2 linked regions of the Homo sapiens genome follow. The protein of the gene in region 1 purifies or fractionates together with the protein of each later gene. This does not show direct contact. Each region holds a gene or a part of one and is shown in the gene's direction. Other genes may lie near its edges.

Region 1 (3,500 bases):
ACTCCGTCTTGGGAGGGGTGGGGAAAAACGCCATTTTATCTGGGGTGAAATGATATCTCATTGTAGTTTTGATTTGTATTTCACTGATGATCAGTGATGGTGAGCACCCTTTCATTTACCTGTTTGCCATTTGAATTTTCTTTTGAGAAATGTATGTTCAAACCTTTTGCCCAATTTTTAATCAGATTATTAAATTTTTACCTACAGAGCTTTTTGAGCTCCTTATATATTCTGGTTATTAATCCCTTGTCAGATGGGTAGTTGGCAAATAATTATTCCCATTCTGTGGGTTGTCTCTTCACTTTGTTAATTGTTTCCTTTGCTGTGCTTTTTAACCTGATGGGATCGCATTTGTCTATTTCTGCTTTGATTGCCTGTGCTTGTGTGGTATTACTCAAGAAATTTTTGCCCAGACCACTGCCCTGGGGAGTTTCCCCAATGTTTTCTTGTATTAGTTTCATAGTTCGAGGTCTTACAAATATTTAAGTCTTTAATCCCTTTTGTTTTGACTTTTGTATGTGGCAAGAGATAGGGGTCTAGTTTCATTTTTTTTGCATATGGATACCCAGTTTTTCCAGCACCATTATTGAAGAGACTGGCTGTTCCCCAGTGTAGGTTTGAGTTCACTGTAGATGTGTGGATTTGTTTTGGCTTCTCTATTCTGTTCCATTGGTGTATGTGTCTGTTTTTATGCCAGTACCATGCTGTTTTGGTTACTATAGCTCTGTAGTATAATTTGAAGTCAGGTAATGTGATTCCTCCAAGTTTGTTCTTTTTGCTTAAGGTAGCTTTGGCTATTCTGGTTCTTTTGTGGTTCCATGTAAATTTTAGGATTTTTTTTTTTCTGTGAAGAATGTCATTGGTATTTTGATAAGGATTGCATTGAATCTGTAGGTTGCTTTGGGTACTATGGACATTTTAACAATATTAAATTCTTCCAATCCATGATCCTGGAATATCTTTCCATTTTTTTGTGTCCTCTTCAATTTCTTTTTTTCTTTTTCTTTTCTTTTTTTTTTTTTTTTTTTTTTTTTTGAGACAGAGTTTCACTCTTGTTGCCCAGGTTGGAGTGCAATTGCGTAATCTCACCTCATGGCGACCTCCACCTCCCGGTTTCAAGCGATTCTCCTGCCTCAGCCTCCTGAGTAGCTGGGATTACAGGTGCCTGCCACCACGCCCAGCTAATTTTTGTATTTTTAGTACAGCCTTGGTTTCACCATGTTGGCCAGGCTGGTCACGAGCTCCTGACCTCAGGTGATCCACCCGTCTCAGCCTCCCAAAGTTCTGGGATTACAGGCATGAGCCACTGCACCCAGCCCTCTTCAATGTCTTTCATCGATGTTTTATAGTTTTTGTTGTAGAGATCTTTCACTTCTTTGGTTAATTCCTAGGTATTTTATTTGTGGCTACTGTAAGTAGAAATACTTTCTTGATTTCTTTTTCTGATTGTTCGCTGTTAGCATATAGAAATGCTACTGATTTTTGTATCATGCAACTTTACTGAATTTATCAGTCCTAATTGGTTTTTGGTAAAATAAAGATTATATCAAATATAACGTTATATCATTGATTTTTCCAAATATAAGATCAAATCATCTGCAAACAAGGATAATGTGACATCTTCCTCTCCAATTTGGATGCCCTTCCTCCCTCCCTCCCTCCCTCCCTCACTTCCTTCCTTCCTTCCTTCCTTCCTTCCTTCCTTCCTTCCTTCCTTCCTTCCTTCCATCTGATTGCTCTAGCTAGGACTTCCATTGCTGTGTTGAATAACAGTGGTAAAAGTGGGCATCCTTATCATGTTCCAGATGTTAGAGGAAAGGCTTTCAGTTTTTTCCCCATTTAGTATGGGGGTCTATTATATATGAATTTTATTATGTTGAAGTATGTTTTTCTATACCCAGTTTTTTGAGGGCTTTTATCATGAAAGGATGTTGAATTTTATCAAATGCTTTTTCAGCATCAATTGAAATGATCATATGCTTTTTGTCCTTCATTCTGTTGATATGATGTATATATTAGGGTTCTTTAGAGGGACAGGACTAATAGAATAGATGTATATATGAAAGAGAGATTTTTTGTTTTTTTGGTTTTTTTTGAGACGGAGTCTTGCTCTGTCGCCCAGGCTGGAGTGCAGTGGCACGATCTCGGCTCACTGCAACCTCCACCTCCCGGGTTCAAGCAATTCTCCTGCTTCAGCCTCCCGAGTAGCTGGGATTACAGGCGCGTGCCACCACACCCGGCTGGCTAATTTTTGTAGTTTTAGTAGAGACGGGGTTTCACCATGCTGGTCAGGCTGGTCTTGAACTCTTGGCCTCCCAAAGTACTGGGATTACAGGTGTGAGCCACTGCGCACAGCCGAGAGGGAGTTTATTAAGGAGTATTGACTCACACGATCACAAGATGAAGTCCTACGATAGGCTGTCTGCAAGATGAGGAGCAAGGAGGCCAGTCCGAGTCCCAAAACCTCAAAAGTAGGGAAGCCGGCAGTACAGCCTTCAGTCTATGGCCAAACACCTGAGAATCCCTGGCAAACCACTGGTCCAAGAATCCAAAAGCTGTAGAACTTGGAGTTCAATGTTTGAGGGCAGGAAGCACAGGAGTAAGATAAAGGCCTGAAGACTGATCCAGTCTAGTCCTTCCACATTCCTCTGCCTCCTTTTATCCTAGCCATGCTGGCAGCTGATTAGATGGTACCTACCCAGATAGAGGGTAGGTCTGCCTCTTCCATTCCACTGTCTCAAATGTTCATCTCGTTTGGCATCACCTTCACAGACACACCCAGGAACAATACTTTGCATCCTTCAATCCAATCAAGTTGACACTCAGTGTTAACCATCACAGTGTATTACATTGATTTGTGTATGTTGAACTATTCTTGCATCCCTGGGATAAATCTTACTTGGTCATGATGATCTTCTTAATGTGTTGTTGAATTTGGTTTGCAAGTATTTTGTTGAGGAAAGAATTATTCCTGTAAGAGAAGCTTTGCAATTCCAGTATGTTACCCAAATAGTTGGGTAACATTTTTCTAAACATATAGACCGAACATTATTCCTTCTGTATAGACTGTTACCATATTGCAACTCTGAAAGAAATGAATGTAAGTACAGTATTGGTTCTCAATAGCTGTTAATCCCGATAATTAGGTAAAAGACTGACAAGGAGCATTATGGTGGATAGAATCAGACTGATATAATCCAAGCCCTATGATGGGTCTTAATATCTTAAAAAGAGACACAACCAGAACCTATTTACATCCTGATGGGATGTAACAGGAAATAGACAATACTGCCTGTGAATATTCTTGTCAAAAAAAACCCAAAAAACCCTGAAATCTAACCAGGCATTTACCATTTACCTCTGACTAGTTTATAGGATATTTGTGTGATAAAGAAGCATGTTAAAGGACACCTTGGAGATGGAGTCAACAAAACCCAGAATGTTACAAAACAGATGACCCACTTTCATCAACAAATACATGGCAAGGAGAAAAAGGAGGA
Region 2 (4,279 bases), on another chromosome or scaffold:
TTTCTCTGCTAGGACCTTGTCTTTTTTTGAGCAAAAACTTTTTTTGTTCTCAATTGACTCAATTCTGTTTCCACTCGATTTTTTTTTTTTTTTTTACTAAAATAGTTATTGCAACAGAGGCTACTCTTGGGTTTTTAAGAAAGAGTATAGTTTAGACACTTAGAAATGCTTTGTTTACAAAAATGTTTTAAGTGCACTGTAAAAGCATCATGTGGTCTAGCCTCATAATAATTCTCCCTTTTTGGAGACCCAGGATTCAGTGTGGGCTCTGCCCAGAGCTCAGAGATCCAGTTAAAAAAGAATTGGTAGTCCCTATCTAAATAACAGTGGTCTCCTTATACAATCCAGTGATAAATTTCTATAATTTTATGTTCAATTGGCAATTAAATCTGTTTTAATTTCCCTCTAGCTCACAGAATTTCTCTTCAGACCTTATAATGTAAATTTTGCTATCTGACTTTCACCTGAGTTGTTTCCTTTAATATGCAAATTTAAGACTATTTAGCTGACTACTGCCTAGCACTGTGAAACAGGTTATCAAGAATCTGAAAGTCTAAGATAAAGAAAAAAGGTTTTTATGAATCTGTAAGATGTACTTCTTCTATCAGCATGCCTAATACATCTATGTATTTATATGTTATGTATACAATGTTGCACTCCTGAAAATATATCAAAGAGCTCTAATTAATTGTCTTAAAAAATAAAAGCATTTACATCAAATACTTTATTAGAAAAAGGAAAGACTAGTCAAATGCTTTTTCAAGTTATGTGACTTAAGTAAAATCTTTAATAAATAAGCTATCTTTAAAATTATTGGTAAAGTAATATTAGAAATGTCTTAGGAATTGCCAGCATACATTTTTATTTGCGTTTATTAATCAAGCAATTTCATACTTAACCCTGCCAAATACTATTAGGTGTCAAAATTTGGCACAGGCTATAAACCCAGCCCAAGACAGAATGATCTCTGCTCGTGTAACCATTAATAAATAAGACATTGATACTGGTTTAATGAAAATAGCTACATCTTGATTTAGTAAAATTACCATAACTTCTAATCTTGTGGCAGTCTAGGCAGTCTAGTCCACAGGCAGTAAGGAGTTTTGTTTTGGGAAAGGACTGTTATACTTTGTTTCAAAGTTAAACTATAAGTAAACTTGCATGGGAAGAGAATGTTTAATTTTGTGAAAAACGACCAAACTGTCTTCCAAAGTAGCTCTTAGAGACAACCTGTCCACAGAAGAACGCAGCAAGCCCCCTCCCCTAAATGCCCTGCAGCTTATTTCTTCTGAGATGCTGCCCCTACTTCACGTTACCAGAACTTAGGTACAGCTGTATCCACCCCCAGGCCAAACCACATCCTGGTACTCTAAGCCAGGTGGGGCAAGAAGTGACAAACAACTGCAGGATGTAGACTAACCTCAGAAAGCCCCTAGGCCCTCAAAGCCCTATATAAGTCCCTCACCTTAAACACCCTGGGCTGCCTCCTCTGACTGTTATGCAGCAGGCCGGCAGGTCAATAAACTTGCTTGCCTGACTTTGAGTATACTCGTCTTTTCTCTTGGCCAACCTTACGGTAGCTGTACCAGTTTGCATTTCCACCAGCAATGAATGAGAGTTCCTGTTGCTCTGCATCCTCACCAGCATTTGGTGTGGTCAGTATTTTGGATTTTCACCATTCTAATAGGTGTGTAGTAGTATGCTATTCTTGTCTAATTTGCTGTTCCCCAATGACATATGATGTTGGGCATATTATCATATACTTATTTGCCGTTGGTAGATCTTCTTTGGTGAGAGGTCTGCTCAGATCTTTTATCCATGTTTTAACTGGGTTATTCTTTTTCTTTTTTTTTTGAGTCTTAAGAGTTCCTCGTGTGTTTTGGATAACAGTCCTTTATCAGAGATGTCTTTTGCAAATAGTTTCTACCAGTCTGTGGCTTATCTTCACATTCTCTTCACAGTGTCTTTCAGAAAGCAAATAATAATAATAATAATAATTACGTCTAATTTATCAATTATTTCTTTCATGGATTATGCTTTTTGTGTTGTATCTAAAAAGTAATCATGATGCCCAAGGTCATCTAGATGTTTTGTCTTCTAGGAGTTTTATTGTTTTGTGTTTTTACATTTAAGTCCATGATCCATTTGAGCTGGCTTTTGTGAATGGTGTAAGATCTGTACCTGGATTTGTTTTTGTTTTTGCATGTAGGTGTACAGTTGTTCCAGTGCTCATTGTTGAAAAGACTCTTTGAACCATTGTATTGCCTTTCTTTTTTCGAAAGGTCAGTTGACTGTATTTACATGTGCCTATTTCTGGGATTCCTATTCTGTTCCATTTATCTATTTGTTTATTCTTTAACTAATACCACACTATCTTGATTACTGTTGATTTATAGTAATTCTTGAAGTTGGGTTGTATCCGTCCTCTGACTTATTTGTTCAATATTGTGTTGGCTCTTCTGGGTCTTTTGCCTTTCCACATAAACTTTAGAATTAGTTTGTTGATATCCACAAAATAACTAGCCATGATTTTCACTGGGATTTCACTGGATCTACAGATCAATTTGGGAAGAATTGATATCTTGATAATATTGAGTTTTCCTGTCCATGAATATAAAATGCCTCTGTATTTATTTAGTCCTTCATAGATTTCTTTCATCAGAATTTTGTAGTTTTCCTTATGTAGAATTTGTACATACCGTGTTAGATTTATACCTAAGTTTTATAGGGGGGTGCTAATGTAAATGGTATTGCATTTTTAATTTCATATTCCACTTGATCATTATAGGTATATGGGAATTGACTTTTATACATTAACTTTGTATCTGCAATCTTGTTCTCATTGCCTCTTAGTTCCAGGACATCGATTTGGCAATTCTTTCATAATTTTCTGCATGGATAATTATGTCTTCTATAAAGACAGACCATTTTATTTCTTCCTCTTCAGTCTGTACAACTTTTATTTCTTTTTCTTGGCTAACTGTGTTAGCTAGGATTTCCCGTACAGTGTTGACTAGGAATGGTGTGAGCAGACATTCTTGTGTTATTCCTGATTCCACTGGAAAACGATCTAGGTTTTCACCATTAATTCTTATGTTGGCTGTAAGGTTCCTGTTTATGTTCTTTATCAAGTGGAGGATGTGTCCCTCTATTCCTAGAGTGCCGAGACTTTTTATCATGAGCTGGTGTTGGATTTTGTCAAATGCTTTTTCTGCATCTAGCAATATGATCATATGATTTTTCTTTAGTCTGTTGGTGGATTATATTAATTGATTTTTGAACATTGAACTAGCCTTGCCTAGCTGTAATAAATTCCGCTTTAACCTGGTGTACAATTCTTTTGATACATTGTGGGTTTCAATTTGCTAACATTCTATTGATGATTTTTGCATCTATATTCACAAGATATATTGTTTTGTGTTTTTTCTTTCTTGTAATGTCTTTGTGTGGTTTTGGCGTTAGGGTAATCCTTGCCTCATAGGATCAGTTGGGAAGTATTCCTTTTGTTTCTATCTTATAAAAGAGATGGCACAGAACTGGTACAACTTTTTTCTTAAATATTTGGTAGAACTTATCAAATGAAACCATCTGGGCCTAATGCTTTCTGTGTGGATGTTGTTAATTATTGATTCAATTAATTAGATATAAACATATTCAAGTGGTCTGTTTCCTCTTGTGTGTTTTGGCAGAGTGTGCTTTCAAGAAATGTGTCCATTTCGTCTAGGTTATCAAATTTGTGGACATACAGTTATTCATAGTATTCCTTTATTATCATTTTCATGCCCATGGGATCTGCAGTAATGTCCCTTATTTCATTTCTGATATTGAGTATTTGTTTTTTCTCTTTGTTAGCCAGGCTAGAGGTTAATCAATTTCATTGACCTTTTCAAAAAATCAGCTTTAGGTTTTGTTGATAATCTTTTGAGTTTGTTTTCAATTTCATTGATTTCTGCTCTTTTTATTATTTTTTCTCTTCTGTTTAATTTGATCTTAATTTGTTCTTCTTTTATAGATTCCCAAGGTGGAATCTTAGGTTATTTTAGATCTTTCTTCTTTTCTGGTTTGTGCATTCATTGATATAAATTTCCCTCTATACAGAGATTCACGGATCCATCCGGGTGGTCCGGGCACCACTGGCGCCCCTCTGCGGCTATTCCCCAGTTCCATTTTCTGAAGCCACAGGTCAGAAGCCGCTGTACAACGCTTTGCCGAACTCCAGAATCTTGAAGGAGACGTAAGGTGCAGCCACCTGCCGCGCAGGCGCAAGCCTTTCTTTCGG

The links. The genes of interacting proteins can lie anywhere in the genome.
Region 2: the proteins of WDR12 (region 1) and CHMP7 fractionate together in Homo sapiens (co-fractionation; one large-scale study listed by BioGRID). This does not show direct contact.

What each region holds. Positions count from the first base shown.
Region 1 is NC_000002.12:202,901,674-202,905,173, reverse strand, and holds part of WDR12 (ribosome biogenesis protein WDR12), read left to right. Parts: intron 1-3,500.
Region 2 is NC_000008.11:23,242,158-23,246,436, forward strand, and holds the start of CHMP7 (charged multivesicular body protein 7), read left to right. Parts: upstream 1-1,479; 5' UTR 1,480-1,687; intron 1,688-4,098; 5' UTR 4,099-4,279. UniProt on the Homo sapiens protein: ESCRT-III-like protein required to recruit the ESCRT-III complex to the nuclear envelope (NE) during late anaphase. Together with SPAST, the ESCRT-III complex promotes NE sealing and mitotic spindle disassembly during late anaphase.